Linked DNA regions of Homo sapiens: regions 1, 2 and 4 are each linked to region 3. The links come from fine-mapping of genetic effects on gene expression. A gene starts in region 3. Each other region holds a variant in brackets. All regions are shown on one strand. Distances are from middle to middle.

What was found. PIP is the estimated chance that this variant, and not a neighbour inherited with it, causes the effect.
Region 1: its variant is fine-mapped to the expression of ANXA6 in whole blood (INTERVAL, PIP above 0.99).
Region 2: its variant is fine-mapped to the expression of ANXA6 in lung (TOPMed, PIP above 0.99).
Region 4: its variant is fine-mapped to the expression of ANXA6 in lung (TOPMed, PIP above 0.99).

What each region holds. Positions count from the first base shown.
Region 1 is chr5:151,098,475-151,103,629 of GRCh38, forward strand. It overlaps ANXA6 (annexin A6), which reads right to left. Exons shown (of 26, transcript NM_001155.5): 25 at 5,096-5,155; 26 at 2,232-3,033. The coding sequence ends at 2,974. Among named protein-coding and RNA genes, the nearest start is that of TNIP1, 20 kb to the left of the region's middle. RefSeq lists enhancers at 1-41, 232-281. The variant C/A (reference allele first, on the strand shown) is at 2,867.
Region 2 is chr5:151,002,458-151,007,612 of GRCh38, forward strand. No RefSeq gene overlaps it. Among named protein-coding and RNA genes, the nearest start is that of GPX3, 16 kb to the right of the region's middle. The variant A/G (reference allele first, on the strand shown) is at 2,940.
Region 3 is chr5:151,155,793-151,160,896 of GRCh38, forward strand. ANXA6 (annexin A6) reads right to left here and starts at 1,987. Exons shown (of 26, transcript NM_001155.5): 1 at 1,888-1,987. RefSeq lists an enhancer at 2,148-3,004 and a silencer at 2,800-2,859.
Region 4 is chr5:151,126,248-151,131,402 of GRCh38, forward strand. ANXA6 (annexin A6) reads right to left here. Exons shown (of 26, transcript NM_001155.5): 11 at 4,984-5,042; 12 at 3,160-3,282; 13 at 1,934-1,992; 14 at 155-233. Among named protein-coding and RNA genes, the nearest start is that of ANXA6, 29 kb to the right of the region's middle. RefSeq lists an enhancer at 1-66. The variant C/T (reference allele first, on the strand shown) is at 2,794.

The DNA.
Region 1 (5,155 bases), 57 kb before region 3:
CCGATTAAACTTTGGCCACAGAAGCAATCTCCAGTGTCATTTTGGAGAGAGCTGAGCAGGAGGGACACTCAGTGGAAGCTCCTTAAGCACCAGAACCACATTGGTTTGTATGTTTTGCACCTAGCACGTGGCATGGAACATAGGAGCCACTCATTAAGTGTAAACTGCATGCATGCATGAATGGGGTGCTCTGGTTCAGAACAGTGGCTACTCTCCTCCTCTGCTAAAACTCCAAGAAAAAAATGTGGTTTGTTCAGCTGGCACCGAGCTCTTAGTAGGACCGTTGCAAAAGGCTCCCGAATGGCACCCTGCCTTCCTACATTTGTCCTCAGAGCATAGCTAGACGCACACCTTCCCCACTCAAGAACTCCAAAGGCTTCCCCTAGGTTATCAGAGAAAATCCTGACATTTAAAGTCCTCCTTAATTGGAGACAAACTGTCACTTCTCATCTTGTCTACCTCACCTCACAAACTCTTAGGGTTTCCTTCCTGCTACCGACCAGTACCAGAATGCAACTACCTTAACTGAAAATTATGTGGAAAATGCATGCTGAGGCATTAGGGAGGCATCAGACAGCTACTGCCCGATTTTAGCTGTCCTCATTCCTGGTTTCTAGGCCTCCTCTTCTGTGTTCCCCTCAGCTCCATGGGCTCTCCTCACTTCTATTCCCTGATTCCACTCTTCTTTCCTTTCTGCCCCAAGCCCATTTCCCTCAGTATATATTTTAAGGCACTTTTCTTTTTGGGTTCAAATGCCTTTGTGATCTGCAGCTGACGGACTTCATGAAATCAAAGCCATAAAGCATCATGGGCTCCACCTTTCAGCCCCTACAACTGAGCCTGGTTCGGGGCAGGTAGTGAGACTGACTCCGAGCCAGGCACGCACCCTGCCAAGCACCTCCACGTGGTGCCTCCTTTTATTCCCACAAGGCTACAGGATAGGTGGAATTGGAATGAGGAGCCCTGTTTTACAGAGAAGGAAACCGAAGCTCCTGTGCTGACGGTCAGTTAGTTACAAAGGTCTTAATCCAAAACTCTGAACCATTTTGTTAATTTATCTTTCAGTAACAGTTCAATTAAGTTAGACAAATATCCCAAAAAGCTCTTAGCTGGCCCTCAAGGCACTTGAGTTCACAGCCCAGAAGAAAGGAAGTAAAGACACGGTAAGGTAACTTTTCTTTGTTTCAGACTCATTATGTCAGAGATTAAGAGAGAGCTCTTCAAAATTGTTGGATCCAACCCCCCACTATAAAGTTGGAGTAACTGAGGCCCAGTGAGGGCAATGGCTGGTCTGAGGTCACAAGTGAGGGAGGGACGAGACCAGACTCTCTCACCTGCCTGTTGCTGTCTTCACAGCTATGAAAACAAACACATGCGCCGCGCACGGTGGCTCACGCCTGTAATCCCAGCACTTTGGGAGGCCAAGGCGGGTGGATCACCTGAGATCAGGAGTTCGAGACCAGCCTGACCAACATGGAGAAACTCCATCTCTATTAAAAATACAAAATTAGCCAGGTGTGGTAGCACATGTCTGTAATCCCAGCTACTCGGGAAGCTGAGGCAGGAGAATCGCTTGAACCCGGGAGGCAGAGGTGGCAGTGAGCCAAATTCATGCCATTGCACTCCAGCCTGGGCAACAAGAGCGAAAGTCCATCTCAAAAAAAAAAAAAAAGAAGAAAAAGAAAAGAAAGAAAAGAAAACAAACACGCGCTAACCTGCAATAAACTAGTCTGGTCAGCCAGGGTAGGGAGAAGTGCCCTTTGGCCAGCAGCCAGCCCCATGCCATGGTCACTGGACAATCTTAGACCAAAGCCACAGACCAGAAGTAGGGCAGCGGGGGAGGGAAGGCAGAGGAACTGCAGTTGCGCCTACTTGCTTATCAGTGACCTGCATGAAGGAAACTTTCCATGCACCTCTCCAGATCAAGATCACATCGGGCACCCTTGCATAGTTCAAAAGAGGAAGTTTGGGCTTGGTTGAAATGGATGAAGAGCATACAGAAATGTCCAGACAGCGAGAGGGGATGAGGGGGAACCTGAGGCCCGGAGCAGGGCTGGGCCAGCCTTCCCAGGCTTGCTGCAAACTCAGATTCTCCTGTGCGCTTCCCGGGAAACACCTTGCAAGAATTTAAAGACGTAACTCGCTCCTGGACAGACTTTACAACCTCAAGCTCTAATGAGGAAAATCCAGGCTGCAGGCTCTAGGTAGAAGACAGAGGCCCTCACTGGAAATGTGTTTATGTGTTTGTGTATCTCTTTTTATTTCTTCCTTAGAAATAAAAAGTGTCAAGGGAATGAATCGGAGGCATACTTTAGGAAGTTAATGTTAGAAGGGAAGCCAAGATTTTTTTGTCCAACTGTCTCATTGTAGATAAGAAAATAGAGACTCAGGGAGGGAAAGGGGCTGGCCTAAGGTCAGAAACAAGTGCATGGCAGATGCAGATTTGAACCCAGGCATCCAAATTCCTGGTCCAGTACTCTAGCGCGGCCTGGATGGAGATGGGTGGTGAAATGGATGGGAAGATTTGTCAGTTTGCCCCAGCACATTTACTATCCTTCCCACCACCCCGCCCAGCACATTCAACTGGCCCCTGCCACCAACCCCCTCATTCAAAGTACAGACACTACTCATTTTACAGACAGAGGTTCAGGATGTTTTTGGATCTGACATAGCCCAAACCAGGGCAGAGGCTGTAGCAAGGGGAGGAAGCTGGGAAAGCCTGAGGGTCAGAGGGGAGTGGAGGTGGACAGGATCTATGGCTACGGTTTTTCAGCCGCTCAGCCGTGCTGGGCCCTCGATGGCCCGTGGGAGTGGGAGCGTTTCCTAAGCTCCACTGAAGATAAGAGCCCAACCCAACCCCTCCCCC[C/A]ACCCCTGCCCCTTCCTTAGTCTCTGGAGCTGGAACAATCAGGCTTGGCCATGGCGGCTGGTGCTGATAACCATTTCTTGGCAGAAGTGCCCGCCAAAGCTGTGGCCCTAGTCCTCACCACCACAGAGAGCCAGCAAGGCCTTCAGGAAGTCTCCGGAGGTGTCACCCTGGCAGAGGCAGAGAGCAGAGTGAGTGAAAACAGTCCTTCCAGTCTCAATGCCCCCTCCTCCCGGCTGCCCATCTGTCTGGACATCTCCCTCGGCTTCTCTCCATGACCAACATAGGATCCCATGCCACATGTAGGCTACTGGGATCTCCCAGACACATAAATGTGACCACGTCCCTTTTGTTTATCCCCAGGAAGATATGCAAGCTCCCGGCCTGGCTTCAAGGCCCTTTGGGATCTGACCTGTGCAGAGCTCTGCAGCTTCACCTGTTCCTTTCCCCCAGGAGCATCTCAGTCCTCTCTCCACCTGTCACTCCCCTGTCCAACATGCCCCTGTGCACCCCCAATCCCATTTGCCAGCAGGGCCCTCTCCTCTGAGAAGCACTCTGGCCACTCTCTTGCGTCAGGAGGCACAGTGAACTCTGGCCTCCCTTGGTTCCCCTGGCACTCTGCTGATACCCTCCCCCATGGCCCTTGGCATATCGTGTTAGGTGATTTCTTATTTGAACAAACAACATTGAGTGCTAACTGCCAAGCCATTGCTGGGAATGGGTACAAACACCATCACGCTCACCACACATCACAGTGGTCTGGTATACGTTCAGACTGGGGAGGCCAAACTTCCTGACCCATGGTATGGTATGGATCTCCCTTCTGAGGGACTCCTATCATTGTTATGAGACATGGTTTTCGGGATTTTGTTTGTCCTTGTATTTTTTGATGTATGATTTTAAAACATAATATAGTATCAAAATGTGCCAACAATTTACTTACATTCCTACTAAGTCTGTAAGAGACTGCCTCTGAGATGCCCATAGTCTCGTTAGCCAAGTAGAACCAAGCATCAGACTTTAAGATCTTGGCTGATCTCAAAGAGCAAAAATATAAGCTCCATATGTCAAAAAAGTCAGACGCAGCCAGGTGTGGTGGCTCACACCTGTAATCCCAGCACTTTGGGAGGCCAAGGCAGGTGGATCACTTGAGGTCAGGAGCTAGCAACCAGCCTGGCCAACACAGTGAAACCCTGTCTGTACTAAAAATACAAAAATTAGCCAGGCATAGTGATGCATGCCTGCAGTCCCAGCTACTCGGGAGGCTGAGGCAGGAGAATTGCTTAAACCCAGGAGGTGGACGTTGCAGTGAGATGAGATGGCACTGCTGCACTCCAGCCTGGGCGACAGAGCAAGACTCCGTCTCAAAAACAAACAAACAAACAAAAAGTCAGACACAAAGGGTCACATATTAGGTGATTCCATTTATATGAAATATTCAGAAAAGGCAAATCTACAGAGACACAAAGTAGCTTGGTGGTTGCCTATGGCTGGGGATGGAACTAGATAAACAGGTATGAGAGAGCTTAGTGGGATGATAGAAGTGTTTGGAAACCAGCTGCATTATGGGAATGGTTGTACAACTCAGTAAATTTACTAAAAACTGTTGAATTGTACCCTTAAAACAGGTGAATTTTATGATATGTAAGTTTTTCGTTTGTTTGTTTGTCTGTTTTTGAGATGGAGTCTTGCTCTGTTGCCCAGGCTGGAGTGCAGTGGCGTGATCTCAGCTCACTGCAACCTCTACCTCCTGGGTTCAAGCGATTCTCTTGCCTCAGCCTCCTGAGTAGCTGGGATTACAGGCATGAGCCAACACACCCAGCTAATTTTTGTATTTTTAGTAGAGACAGGGTTTCACCATGTTGGCCAGGCTGGTCTTGAACTCCTGACCTCAAGTGATCCACCTGCCTTGGCCTTCCAACGTGCTGTGATTACAGGTGTGAGCCACCATGCCTGCCCATGATATGTAAGTTATACTTCCATAACATTGCTTTAAAAAAAGCAAAAAATGGGCTCTTGTTTTATTTGGAAATCTTTAATTATAAACCTTTGATTCTTTTGGAATTGATTTCGGTATAAACAATGCAATACAGACCCCCTTTCATTTCAATATCCTGGCTGTTCTAAGCGGTAACCCACTGGAAAAAAGTCCATGGGAATAAAGACTTCTAATCTTATATTAGGGATCTGACACTCACCCGCTTCCTGCTAACCTCTAGCCCCTCCCCTTACCTCAATGGCTTGGTGGAGAGACTTGTCATATTTCTCAATGAATTCCCTCCGGATGTTGAG
Region 2 (5,155 bases), 150 kb before region 3:
GAAAAAGAGGCTGGGTGCAGTGGCTCATGCCTGTAATCCCAGCGCTTTGGGAGGGTGAGGCAGGAGGACAGCTCAAGCCTAGGAGTTTGAGGTTACACAAAGCTATAATCACACTACTGCACTCCAGCCTGGGTGACAGAGCAAAACCCTCTCTCTCAAAAAAAAAAAAAAAAAAAAAAAACGATTTAGAAAGTTATCTCACATACATAAGCTTACCCCAACCTTGTGAGCAGGTAGTAGCATTAGTATTAGCCTCATTTTTTGGAGGCAAAGCTGATGATTTCATTATCAGGCGCTCTTCTGTATTTCCAAATAAATTGACAGCAGTACAACATTCTGCCTACATTCAGTTCAAGTCCAGGTGCTGTGCTGGGGACACTATGAGGCATGCAGAAATAAAGAAGACAATCCCTGCCCCTCAGGGGGTCATTATCAGGTGTGAGGACAGACACACCTAAATAACCAAGTGCCCACTGTAACAGACAGGAGAGCCCAGGAAGGTAGGAAATTCACTTCGATAGTGAGGCTGGGCACAGTTTTATGGAAGGGGTATGCTGACAATAAGAGGTAAGGTGTATTTAGCCTTTACTCTGTGCATGGCACTGTGCTAAGTGCTTTACCTGCATAATCTCATTAAAACTTCCCCACAGGCCAGGCACCGTGGTTTATGCCTGTAATCCCAGCACTTTGGGAGGCCAAAACAAGAGGATTGCTTAAGCCCAGGAGTTTGCAACCAGCCTGGGCAACATAGCAGGGCCCTGTCTCTTAAAAACAAACCAACCAACCAACAAACAAACCAACAAACAAATCCCCATAGACCTGGAAGGTATCCTACCCTTTTTTACAGAGAAGAAAACTGATGGTCAGAGAGGTTAAGAAACCAGCTACCGTGGCACAACACTGGAACGCGCGTCCTTAATGTGAATTCAGGAGGCCCTACAAGGGTTGGTAGACTTTCAACAGGCAGGGCTGGGAGAGAGACTTCTAAGAGAGGAAACACAGAAACGAAGCCTTAGAGGCAAGAAATACAGGCACGTCTGGGAATGGCAAGGGGATCAGCGTGCCTGGGGTGTGAAAAAGGAGGAATCTGAAGAGATCAAAACTAGAGAAAGAAAACTGAGTCAGAGTGGTGAAGACTGTGAGTAGCAAGGCAAGGAGATCCCGCTGTATTTTGTATTCAGGTGAAACCAACTGAAGATAATGACATCATGTGTGCTTTATGAGGATTAATTTGGTGCATTGCCTAAGAGAACAAGGAGACTAGTTAGGGGCTTGTTAAAATAGTCCTGGCCAAAGATAACTAGCGAAGGAATGAGAACCAGAAGACATTACAGAGATAAAATCCACAAGATCTTATTAGATGCTGGGGAAAGAGGAAAGAATTGTGATTAAGATTTTCATGTTTGGGCAACCAGGAGAATGTGAGTGTGTACACCAGGAGAGGGGCTGGACAGAAGGGAGAGGCGAGTTCACTTTTCTTTTATGAGCTGGAAGGACCACAGGGACCTTTGAGTGGAGATGTTTAGAGGAGAGTTAGAAACAGGAAGCTGGTGATTTAGACATAGTACCTGAGAATCAGAAGAAACCCAGGGCCGGGTGTGGTGTCTCACGCCTGTAATCCTAGCACTTTGGGAGGCCAAGATGGGAGGGCTGCTTGAGGCCAGGAGTTCAAGACCAGCCTGGTCAACATAGTAAGACCCTCTCTATATAGAATAAAATAAAATTTAAAAAAAGAAGAAGGCTGGGTGCAGTGGCTCACACCTGTAATCCCAGCACTTTAGGAGGCCGAGGCGGTGGATCACCTGAGGTCAGGAGTTCAAGACCAGCCTGATCAACGTGGTGAAACCCCGTCTCTACTAAAAATACAAAAATTAGCTGGGTGTAGTGGCAGGTGTCTGTAATCCCACCTACTCAGGAGGCTGAGGCAGGAGAATCACTTGAACCCAAGAGACAGTGAGCCAAGATTGCGCCATTGCATTCCAACCTGGGTGACAGAACGAGACTCTGTCTCAAAAAAATAAAAAATAAATAAAAAGAAGAAGAAATGACCAAGGGAGCTGGCCAGGGAAAAACCTACACTTAAGATTCAGCAAGGCATGTTAGACCCTGATAACCTGCAATTCCACAGCCAGGTTTCTATCCCAGAGAAACAAAATCACACGTGCACAAGAGAGCGTATGAAAGTTCACAGCAGCATTGTCTGTCTTGGTGAAAGCCTGGGTCAGGGAGGAGCAGGCAAATAAACCATTAAACATCCACATTGTGCAATAGTTACCAATTAAGTAGATCAAAGGTATTGACATGGACAGATCTTCAGAACATACAGTGGATGAGAAAAACAACATGTAGTGCAATAATAATGTATAAAACATTACTTATGAAAAAAGAAGAAAAGCCAAACAATCCTGTCACATATATATTTTAAATGATGTATGTGTAGGCATAGAGAAAATTCTGGAAAGCTAAATCCATGCTAATTGTGATAAAGGGGAGGAGTTGGGACAAACATGAAGAGCAGAAGGGGTTAAATGGGGTTTTAGCATAGTTGTCAGGTTTTAATTTTATAAGAAAAATGTAATCATCTGTTACTTATGTGAATAAAAATTCTCAAAATATTTTTAAAAAGAAAGATTCAATGGGAAGAGGAAGCAATGGAATAGACAGGAATACATTCCTAGACTCTAGGTAGGACACTGTTACTGGGAACACTGGGAGAAGTTTCTGGAATGCAAGGTGGAAAAAGGATCCACTGCACTCAGCAACGCTGCAGAGACAGCAGCCAGCAGGATGAGTCCTGTGAGCTCAGCTGGTTGTCAACACCTTTCACTTACAGCCACTAGCTCCTGTGTCCTTGAAAAGTCGCCATGTCCCACCACTGCCCTTGAATGAGATGGAGACTTTCTGTTCTTTTTTGAGTTGTAAACATCCAAAAGCATTTC[A/G]TCAATTTCTTGTATTTAGACATTCCCTTCCTTTCCCAGAAATTCCACAGTGATATTCTCAGTGTTCTCTTTCCAGTCCTTCAAGCTGTGTATGAAATCTACTTCTTCCCAGTCCAGCTCCAGCAAATACCTGCCTCCTCTCTTGTTCTCCATTCAAAAAACTTCCAATTTGAGGTCATTTTTAAGAGCATTACTGTGGTGGTGGCGGTGGTGGAGTTTATAGAATTTCTCATGGGACCCACAGCATGGATGTGGCTAACACTGACTGAGCACACAAAGGTGCAGGCACTGTGCTAACTTCATAGGAAGTATCTCGGTTAATCCTTTCAGCAACCCCAGTAGGTCAGTACTATTATAACCTCCAAGGTCTTTCTTTCACAGCTGGGACTTAGTGTGGCTGAGCGACCTAAGGAGGTAAGTGGCAGTAAGCTTGTGGTGGGTGACTCTGTGTTTGTCTCACTATGTGAGTTTGTCCTAAGTGATCAATAGGGGTGGGGACTGGACTAGAAACAAGGTCTCAGGTATGCAGGGGTGTTCAGTTTACCAAATGCCTTTATGACCATTAATTCATTTGATGTCACCACAGTGCTTTAATGACATGGGTCATTAGGGAAAATAATGAGATGAGTCAAGCTTTGTAATTCCCTTAAAGTGGTCAAGTCTGGGTTAAGGGCTTTTAGGGCACATTAACTCACTATGTCGTCTTGAGCAACTCTGCAAGGGGTGGGAGCAGAGGGGGCCCCCTTTGGCCCAGCTCTCTACAAATCATCTAGTTCCTAGCAGCCACTCCTCCTGGTCTGCAAATTCTTGGCGAGGCACCCTCCTGCTCTCCAAACCCACCCATTCCAGGCGATCCCTTAAGTGGCAGAGGAGCCAGGTTCCTGGGGTTAATAAGCAGGCTGTTTATAGCCAGCAGCAGTCACGGGACAGCCAGCTGGAAGGTCATGCCCCTTCTGAATGTTGAGGTTTCTCATAAACATTTCCCCAGTGAGCCTTCTGGGAGATGAGGATGACTCTGGGCCCATTGCCCTTGCTGGGGCAGAGCGCCAAGGCCCCATACTCACTTTCTTCTCCTTTCTCCCGAATCTGGCTCTCTTCCTCTTTCCTCCTTCCTCTCCTACTCTGCTGTCATTCCTTCCCTTTCTTCAGTGGAAAGAGGACACGTTTCACAGTAGACACACAGGATAACTCAACCTTCTGAGCCTCAGTTTCCTCCTGCGTAAATGGGGTAATAATGGGACCTTCATCTCAGGATGTAAGGGAAAGTGCTTAGCACTGTGTTAGGCACGCACAGTGGACATTTAAAACATATTGGTCATGTCTTTCCCCCTCCACCCTATCCTTTTGCCCTAATCCTGGCCACTGCCCTGTTTTCTTTCTATTTTCCTGCTCCAGCCCTGCTCCCATTTCCACCCTGGGCACTTCCACCCCACTGATTGTGCTGCTGCTGCCTGGGAGGGTAGACGAAGAAGCCAGGCTTCATTCAGAGGAGGGCTGACCACCGCAGGGCCCGCCTGGCCTTGGCACTTCCCCATGAGACCGCACCCTAGGCCTCTCTGCTTTTAGTAAATAGCCCATGGGAACAGGGGGTGGAGGGAGGATGTAGAATGGGAGAGGCCAAGACATTTTAACCTTTGGCTTCTATTTGCCCTTAATCTGGCTCTTCCAATGGCTTAATGATCAGAGATCATTGTGTAAATTGCTGTGTGACTTTGGGCAAGTCCCCTTCACTCTCTGAGCTTCAGTGAAGTGTGGGAAGGAAGTGAAGAGCAGAAGTTGGGTAGAAGTGCAGGTCCTGGAACCAGACCATCTCCACCACTTGCTAGCTTGGAGTACATAACTCCTCTGTGCCTCAGTTTCCTCAACTATAAAATGCAATTTATAGTATACCTAATTTATAAAAGCACTTTTAAAAGTGCTTAGAATAGCGCCTAGCCCATAGTTGGTACTAAATTAATCTCAGCTATTATATGCAAATGGAGAGGTAGAACAGGGGTATGTGTGCATGAGAGGAGAGCTGGACCTTCTCTGAGGGTATTCTAAAGTCCTGAAAACCCACATTCCTCCTTTTTGGATAAGAAGAAGACAGAACCTTGAACACAAAGTACTTCTCCCAAGGAGACCATAGGAAACTTGTCAAAGACTTTTAAAGCCAGATGGACCCCTTAGAGGTCATCTGGTCTAACTTGTCATGCTACAGTAAGAACAGGGTGGAC
Region 3 (5,104 bases):
GAAGGGGCTAAGCCCCAGAGGGGTAGTAGGTGTGCCCAGGGCGCCTAGCTGATTAGTGGCAGGGCAGGGGCTGGGTCCGAGGCTGGATCCTGGTGGCCCAGGGCTCCCTCTGGATGCTGCAGTGCGGATGTGCCAGTCACTGGCAGCTATCCAGCACTGCAGTCTCCCCCACTTCATCCCAGGAGTCAGTCTCAAGAGGCCAGGCCTTGGGCTTCCCTGGCCCCTCCTCTGCACACTCACATCTACATTTTGCCCCAGCAACAGCTGTGGCCCTTATCCAGAAACTGCAAGTATTTTCTGTATCTCAGCAGATGCTGCCTTAGGAACAAAGGGTAGATAAGGCAAAGAAAGATGGATGAGTGATTGTCACAGCTGCAGAGGGGGATGAAAGCCTCTGCCTCCTGCCCTCCCCAGTCCCATCCAACTCCCAGAATCCTAAATCTTAGAACAGTTGAATCCTAGAATGTCTGCACTGGCAGTGGCAGCCAGTTCAGCAGACTTTGCTCCAGATGGGGCACAAAGCCTTAGAGAAAGGGCTTGCTCAAGAAGTCCCAGCACATCCGGACTGTAACCGGGCTTTCCTCTGACCCCAGGCCAGTGCCCTCGGCGTGGCTCAGGGCCTGCCTGCTAGGAGGTCAGGGTCCACAGGGGCTGAAACTGGGGCGGTCATTCACTTCACCATGAAGGGCTACGCAGGTCAGGATATGCCATCTGGGTCAGTGGAAGCAATCCCAAGCATGTTTTGGGCAAGGGGGAAGGAATAATGGAGGGAAAAGGGCGGACTCTTGGGGGGAAACCAGAGTCCTTTCACAAACCCGGGAGCCATATGTCCAAATTTGGAATTGTCAGAGAAGACCCACTAGAATCTAGGGAAAGGAAGGAGGAGGCAGGAAGCCGTGGCCAGATTAGTTGTCCCAAAGGACCTCCTGCCCTTTCCCCTTGTAGGGCCTACAAGGGTTGTGCCAGGCTTCCCAAATCTATAATCAAGACTCCCAAACCTGCAATCATTCCATACAGCTGACAAATAAATCAGTTTTCAAAGCCATTGTTTCCTTTGAAAGAGACTGGGTTTCTCAACTATGGACTTGGAGAAGGAAATCCAGGCTCAGAGAGGGAAAGCCACCGCCCAAAGTCACACTGCAACAGGGGCTGGGATTCCGATTCAGGGTATTTTGCTCCCATGCTGGTATATGGGGAATTATTTGAAGCCCCCAAACTTTGGGAAGGCCTAGACCGCTTAGGGGATGCAGAAAGAAGGGTAGTGCCCCTGCCTCACCATAGGAGGCCTCGGAGCCCCGTTGGGAGACTGCATTCATAGACAAGCAGTGGCCCAAAGGGGATGGGGTCCAATGAGGCCCTGAGGTATGTACGACCGGACGTTCAGCTCTCTGCACGCAGGCAGCCCTCCCCCGACACCACACACAAGCCATTTTATAAGCAGCTGGAGGGTCCAACGCTCTTGCTCTCAGTCTTGGGCCTCAGCCACACCCTTCTCTGCGGGTCCTTTGACTGGCGTCCAGCTGACCCCAACCCCGGACCTTCAAAGTCTCTTGAGCCCCCCCAAATTAAGGCCGGCAGGACCAGCCCCTGGCTCAGCTCCGGCGCCCAGGACCCTCAACCAGACCCTCTGCAGCAACGGGACTCCCTCCCCTCCCCCTAGCCAGGGCGCCCTCCGCCCGCGCCTCTCCGCCCCGACCCCAGATTTGCTCCGCTGCGCTCCCCAGACACACCCAGTCTGCGACACTCTCGGGTTACCGCGCCCTCCCGTCCCTGCTCCTGGCGGGGGGTACCCATCAGCCGATGACTGGGCGCTTATTTCTTGTGTCCCTGCAGCCCCCGGGAAGGGGTTCCCAGAGCGACTCCCCTCTCCAGCCTCAGCCCACTCACCGCGCAGCGGAGGCCTCGGGTCGCAGACGGACGCACGGGCGCAGGGACTCGAGGACGCAGCGCTCGCTGGATCGGAGCCCGTTAGCCCAGCAGCAACCGCAGCGCGGGGCGGACCGGGAGGACAGCCGTGGGCTCCGAGCCGGACACGTGGCGCGCAGAGGCCAATCCGGCGCGCCCGCCTCCCTCCTCCACCCCACCCCTCTAGCTCCTTAGCTCTTGGAATCTTAGAATGTCACTAGCCCGAGGGGCTTGCCGGGAGAACCTCCTCAGTTTCCAGCCCCCGGATCTGAGACTGAGAAGGATTAGGGGCTTTGGCCAAGGTCACGCGGCCCTTCAGGGCTAGAAGTCAGGGCTCCTGACTCCGGGTTCTGGACACTTTCCCGCAAATTCTTATAAGTCGCCAAAGCTTTGTTGAGAAACAGAAAATTGAGGTTTGCCAGGGGCACTTTATCTGCCTGATCAGATTCCATGCCTCAACAGCCTCATTAGGTCGGTGACATTATTTACCCACTTTCAGGAGGAGAGCCCAGTCCAGTTCCTGGACCAAGGTCACACAAATAGTGGGTTGCGGAGGCAAGCTTCTTCGTGCTCTGGGAAGCAGGGAAGGCAGGCAGGGAGACCAGCAGTTGTAATCCAGCGCTAGAACAGGAAAAATTGATAAACTGAGAATACAGAGGAAACTGAGAATTATTGTCCCCAGGGGATTGGTAAGGAGAAGATGAGGAAGTTAGAAGAATTGGACAGATACCTGCGGAAAGTGTTCCAGGCAGAGGAAACTGCTGGAGCAAATGCTCCTAGCAGGAGGCCACCTGGCGCCTCCGAGGATCAGCAGGGGGGCCAGTGTGGCTGGAATGGAGTGAGTGGGAGGGAGAGGAGAGATAAGAGGGACCCAATCAGGTGGGACCTCCGGGGCCCTTGAAGGCACGCTGTCTTTTACTCTGAGTCAACTGGGGATCCATTGCAGGATATTGAGCAAAGAAAGGGTATTATTTTTGGGTAGATGAAATCCACACAACATAAAATTAACCATTTTAAAGTCAACAATTCAGTGGCATTTTGTACAGACACAATGTTGTGTATCCACCACCTCTATCTAGTTCCAAAATATTCTCTTCACGGAAAAATAAAACAGTATACCCACTGAGCAGTCACTCCTAACTTTCCCTTACCCCTCGTCTCTGGCAACCACCAATTTGCTTTCTGCTTCTGCGGATGTGCCTATTCTGGATATTTCATATACATGGAATCACATGAGATGCAACCCTTCTTGTCTGACTTCTTTCATGTGGCATTTTGTTTGTTTGTTTTTGTTGTTGTTTTTTCACTCTTGTCGCCCAGGCTGGAGTGCAGTGGCGTGATCTCTGCTCACCACAACTTCTGCCTCCTGGGTTCAAGCAATTCTCCTGCCTCAGCCTCCCGAGTAGTTGGGATTACAGGCATGCGCCACCACACCCAGCTAATTCTGTATTTTTAGTAGAGACGGGGTTTTTCCATGTTGGTCAGGTTGGTCTTGAACTCCCGACCTCAGGTGATCCACCTGCCTCGGCCTCCCAAAGTGCTGGGATTACAGGCGTGAGCCACCGTGCCTGGCCTCATGTGGCATGTTTTTGAAGTTCATCCACACTGTAGCATGTATCAGCACTCCATTCCTTTTTTTTTTTAGTTTCAGTTGGAGTTTTGCTCTTGTTGCCAAGGCTGGAGTGCAATGGCGTGATCTCGGCTCACTGCAACCTCCACCTCTCAGATTCAAGGAATTCTCCTGCCTCAGCCTTCCGAGCAGCTGGGATTACAGGCATGCACCACCACGTGTGGCTAATTTATTTTTGTATTTAGTAGAGATGGGGTTTTACCATGTTAGTTAGGCTGGTCTCGAACTCCTGACCTCAGGTGATCCACCCGCCTTTGCCTCCCAAAGTGCTGGGATTACAGGCATGCGCCACCGTGTCCGGTCCAGCACTCCATTCCTTTTAATGGCTGAATAATTTTCCGTTGTATAAGTACACTATAATTTGTTTATCCATCCATCTGTTGATGGATAGTGCATTGTTTCCCCCTTTTGCTGATTGTGAATAGTGCTGCTAATGAACATTTGCATACAAATACTTATTTGAGTACCTGTTTTCAATTGTCGTTGTGTATTTACCTAGGAATGAAACTGCTGGGTCATATAGTAATTCTACATTTAAGTTTTTGAGGAACTGCCAAACATTTTTTCAGAGTGGCTGCAACATTTTATATTCCCATCAGCCATGTCATGTATGAGGCTTTTAATTTCTCCATGTCCTTGCCAACACTTGTATTTTATTTTTTAAAAATTTGTACCCGGCCAGGCACAGTGGCTCATGCCTGTAATGCCAGTACTTTGGGAGGGCCGAGGTGGGTGAATTGCTTGAGCCCACGAGTTTGAGACCAGCCTGGACAACATGACGAAACCGCATCTCTACAAAAAATTAACCAGGGGTAGTGGCACATGCCTGCAATCCCAGCTACTGGAGAGGCTGAGGTGGGATGATCCCTTGAAGCTGGAAGGTAGAGGCTGCAGTGAGCCGTGATTGCACCACTGCACTCCAGCCTGGGCGACAGAGTGAGAACTTGTCTCAAAAAAACAAAAGTACAAAAAACTTGTGCTCTAGTCATTATGAAATGGCATCTATAATTGTGTTTTTGATTTGCATTTCCCTTCTGACTAATGATGTGGAGTATCTTTTTTGTGTGCTCATTGGCCACTATTTGTACATCTTCTTTGGAAAAATATCTAATCATGCTTTTTGCTCATTTTTAAATTGGATTTTTTGTCTTTTTTGTTGTTAAGTTATATGAGTTCTTTTTATATTCTGGATAAGACTTTTGTGTTTGTTTGAGACAGAGGCTCGTTCTGTTGCCCAGGCTGGAGTGCAGTGGTGCCATGTCGGCTCACTGCAACCTTCACCTCGTGGGTTCAAGCAATTCTTTCCGCCTCAGCCTCCCAAATAGCTGGGATTACAGGCACCTGCTACCATGCCCAGTTAATTTTTGTATTTTTTTAGTAGAGACGGGGATTCATCATGTTGGCCAGGTTGGTCTTGAACTCCTGACCTCAGGTGATCCACCTGCCTTGGCCTCCCAAAGTGCTGGGATTACAGGTGTGAGCCACCGCACCTGGCCAAGACATATTTTTTAAAGGGTCACTGAAGTCTCCTGTGTTGGAAATACTGAATACTGTTGGGGGAAGAGTAGA
Region 4 (5,155 bases), 30 kb before region 3:
CACCACTCCAAGGGAGAAAAGGAAGCTTCAGATGTGAGAATCAACGTGTCGGGTTGGCCGCCAGGGGGCAGCTGGGTGCCAACCAGAGCAGCAGGAAGGTGCAAGCAGAGAAGCTGTGGTCAAGAGGTCAAGCAGGAGGAGGGGAAGGTCTGACCTCTACTCGGGCCACTGCACTAAGTTCCCACATCTGATAGGCCACCTGCGCTGCCTCCGGGAAGAACTGGCCAGCAGCACTGGAATGGAGGGGTTTAGGGAGAGGACAGGAAGGAATGTCATCATGGGCAACACTCACACCAACACACACACACACACACACACACACACCCCAACACATACACACACGTGCACACACCACACACACATTAAGCTTTCTTTCTCTCCAGCCTATGCCTCCTCCATTCGCCAGAGTCCTCCCTCCATTTCTGAGAACCTTCCATCTCTTGAGACCCCCTGCAATGCTGCCTTTTTTATTTTTTATTTTTATTTGAGACGGAGTTTTGCTCTTGTCACCCAGGCTGGGGTGCAGTGGCTCGATCTCAGCTCACTGCAACCTCTGCCTCCCAGGTTCAAGCGATTCTCCTGCCTCAGTCTCCCAAGTAGCTAGGATTACAGGCACCCGCCATCACGCCTGGCTAATTCTTGTATTTTTAGTAGAGATGGGGTTTCGCCATGTTGGCCAGGCTGGTCTTGAACTCCTGACCTCAGGTGATCCGCCCGCCTCAGCCTCCCAAAGTGCTGGGATTACAGGCGCTGAGCCACTGTGTCCGGCCAATGCTGGCTTTTAAGGGCAGCCTTCCTGGCTGCAGAGTCCAAGCAGGATAGGATTTTTCCAATCCTTCAGCCTCCCCTTTCTTCCTTAGAATTTGAATGGCTTCTATCCAACTCTCCCCTCTCAAAGAGGCCATTGAGCAAGCTATGGCCATGCCAGCCCTGCATCTCCTCCTGCAAAGTGCCTGGATGCATCAGGAGCTCAGTAATATCTGCTGAACTGCATCAACCCCTATGGTCCTTACCAAAGGTTCACAGGAAATTCTTGCATCCCTTCTGTAATTGGATCTTTATAAGATCCAGAGAAAGGAAATCAGAGCGCAGCCTGTTCCCTTTCTCAAACACAAATCTGGTCAAGTAATGTCCCAATTTAACATTCTGGGAAGAGGCCCCCAGGCCCTCCCACTTCTCTGCCTTATTTCTCTCTCTAGTACTCCATAAATGCATGACTTCGGACATATGAATGAATCAGGCCACTCCTTCTCACTCCTCGGCTTTTCTATAGGTGATTTCCTCCACCCAAACACTGTCCCCAGACCCTCTTCACCTGGCTCTTCCCCTTCCTCCTTGGGTCTCACCGTGTATCTCCAAAGAGTCTCCCCTTGGTCTGGGCTAGGGCATCTCTGTGTGCTTTTATATATGCTTTCTATGTGGCACAGCCAGTTCTCCCCAGCACAGGACTGCTCCCTTCTGGAAACTGGTCTATACCCTTCTGCGCTGTGGCCTTCATCAGGGGCTTCCTCACAGGGTCTGCACCCAGAAGGCACTTAACACAAATATGCTGCATAAATGAGTAGGCAGAGCAGGAATGTGTCCTTTTCCCATTTAACAGGTGATGAAACCGAGAAATGGCTATGAAATAGCAGGGATTGGATGCTCATATTCTGGTTCCTAGTCCACAACCCCAGACTGACTTTCCAAGTTCACAAGAGCAGACATCTCCATATACAGGAGACCACGCTCACGTTCAGACCCCCACACTCTCAGACACACAGACCCACAAGCACAGCAGCTACCAGCAAAAGCCGCCTTTCACTTGTGCGACGCTCCTGGCTCAGGGGAATCCCCAGCTCATCCAATCCACCCATCAGGATGCGAGCCAGGAGAGTCCCCGCCTGGCACCCCAAGGCCATGCCCTCCAGCCAGGGGCCAAGAAGCCACTTACTCATCATCTCCCCCAGACAGCTTCAGCAGAGTCTTCTTGTACTCGCCAGAGGTGTCATTCTGAAGAGAAAGAAAGAAAGGTTACCTCTCACCCAGCCCTGGGCTCCTCTCAGACAAGGAGGTGAAGGTTCTGCACAGCCTGAAAGAGGGGAAGGCTGAATGAACACTTATTCATAGCAGCCCTGGCCCTCCTGTGCTGGTTAATATTGAATAACTGGTTCTCAGCGGGCAGGTTGGAGGAAGCCCTAATTTATAGCATTTGCCTATTTCTGTGGTGTAAATACTTCTAGCAATGGACAATTTCAAGTTACCAATATGACTTTGCTACCAATATGCGGAGTTGAGAAGAGATGCTCGCTGCCCTTTCAAGCCAGTGCCCCAGCACAGCACTGCCACCAGACAGTCCCCAGCCCAGTCCTTCCACATGAAATATGCATGGAAATGGGGTTCCATGAGCAAAAATATTGGGAAATGCAAAAAAATCAAACAAATATATATTACACAGATGCACATATCCGTATAGATGCATATTCCATATCCCTCTTGGGGCTTCATAATGGACTTCAAAATGTGAAAGGCTGTGAGAAGTTCTGAGGTAAAGAAACTGGCTTATTTATCTTTGCTTATTGTGGTTTGTTACAAACTTATTTTCCCATAGAACATTTTGCACATAACACCTAAAAAAATTACCCTTTGGAAACATACTTTGGAGAATACAACTTGGATCTCTTTCTCTGTCACCCCATAAAGTTTTATTTCAGTCATCCAAAAAAAAAAAAAAAAAGGGAAAACCCCTAGCTTTACATATGTCTCCTGATAAAGCCTCAGGGGCCGGATGTCCCAGAGTCATCACCAATCACC[C/T]GGCCCAGGCCAAAGGTTCCCCTTTAACCCTCATTTGTGTTCTTCAGTGTTTCCCAGCCTTCTTCCAGGAGACTGAACTATCACTGCCCTTGGGGCAGAGTCCTCGCACTTAATTCAGCTTGCGTGTCCTTCATGACCCAGCCCCTGCCTCCTTCTGTAGCCTTACCACTCACAAACACCCCTAACACTTGCTTTTCTGTTGAATATCCTTAAATTCCTTGAATGAGCCACAAGGCAGGAGCTCCTGGAATGTCCAAGAGACTCCCACTTCCTAGGACATTTCCTTTTCCTGGGAATAGTCCCCAAGCCCTCTGTCTTGGCAAAAAGCTCTTTGCTCCCTTCTCTGCCCCCATGAGCTCTGCTGACCTTGATCATGCTGTAGAGGGACTTCTCATACTTGGTCCGGAAGATCTCCCGAATGTCGAGCATGTCCAACTCACTACGGGAGACCATGATGCGGATCAGGGTGTTGTCCCGAGTCCCCAGGCCCTGCAAGACAAGTGGGTTTGGGGAACATGGACTTGAGAGGAGGCTAGAGTGCTGATAGCTCCCAGCTTAGTTGAAAATCCTATTTTCATAATAAAAAGTTAAAATTTAGAGCAAAAGAAGCAGACATTGCCATTCCCATTGAAGCTCTCTCTATGCTCCTCTTACTGTTTTGTTTGTTTGTTTGTTTGTTTGTTTGTTTCTGAGACAGTGTCTCACTCTTGTCCAGGCTGGAGTGCAGTGGTACGATCTCAGCTCACTACAACCTCTGCCTTCCAGACTCAAGCAATTCTCCTGCCTCAGCTTCCTGAGCAGCTGGGAGTACAGGTACCCACCACTACGCCTGGCTAATTTTTGTATTTTTAGTAGAGATGGGGTTTTGCCATGTTGGCCAGGCTGGTCTTGAACTGGCCTCAAGGGCTGCCTTGGCCTCCCAAAATGCTACGATTACACACATGAGCCACCATGCCCGGCCCTCTCACTGTTATAAACCTCTTCTCTCTTCATGTATAATTTCCACACTTGATTTTCCTTATAATTTTACCATAGCTTTGTAACTCTAAGCAATACACTTAGATTTACACATTTTGGAACTCTGCAAATATACCACTGTGCATTTAGGTTTTTGCTGTACTATTCCTGATGGTCACTGGGTTGTTTCTAGCTTTTTCCTAATATAAGCAATACTGTTATAAGTTTTTTTTTTCTTTTTCTTTTTTTTTTGAAGAGGCAGGGTCTCACTCTGTTGTCCAGGCTAGAGTACAGTGGCGTGATCACATAGCACTGCGTTCACTGAAGCCTCAAACCCAGGGGCCCTGTGCTCAAGAAATCCTCCTGCCTCAGCCTCCCGAGTAGTTAGGACTACAGGTATGTGCCACAGTCCCTGGCTAGTTCTATTTGTTATTTTTGTAGAGACAAGGGTCTTACTATGTTGCCCAGGCTGGTCTTGAACTTTGGGCCTCAAGTGATCCTCCCACTTTGGCCTCCCAGAGTGCTGGGATCATAGGTGTGAGCCACTGCATGCACTCAGCCTTGTGATGGGCATTCTTAATGAATTCATGCATACAGGCAAACATCTCTCTAGGGCTGAGCTGCCCAACCTCATTATGGCACACTGGTGGGCAGAGAATGGCCGACAGTCTACTTTGTCCTTTCGGAATGGCCAACCAGGGCCAGAAAGGCCCAAGCTCCTGTGTCTCGGGCCTCAGGCCTCTGGCAGCAAATAACTGCATTCATTTCCTCCAGTGCATCACAAAAATACCAGTTTCTTTGTGCGTCATATGTGTAAAAGCCTGGGAAGCTTTCTCAGAAACACACCCAGAGTGGAACTGTCACAGGGTGAGCATCATGAGTCTTAGCAGGCAAGGCCAAAGTGGTCTTGCCTACATACGCTGTATAAAAACATTCTGGTTAATACTTCTTCAAAGTCCGAGCCGCCAACCCATTTGGCTGGAGGGATCAGGTGCAGGCTGCCACCCTAAGTTCATCTGTTGACTCATGACGTCAGGCAGGTATGCAGGTGGCAGGACATGTGACCAGCAGCATTCCTGGCTCTACAGCTCACCTGCGACAGAGCACCTTCACCAGGGTCAGTCCTGTGGCCATCCCTGAAGGGCTCTCTTTGGCCACTGGATCCCAAGGACTTGTCAAAGACTCCCAATAGTCCTCTCCCCAAACCCCATTCACATCAGCCCCACCACGCACCTTCATAGCCTTGAAGAGCCTTTCAGCAAAATATTCCGGGGTGCTCCGGATACACTTCACTGTGAAGAGGGAGGAAGAGGTAGAGTTATTCTGGCTGCCTCAGAAGGGGGATGGGATGGCCTGACTCCCTCTTTGTTTCTATTCCTTGAGGGCCACCTAGCTCAATACAGGA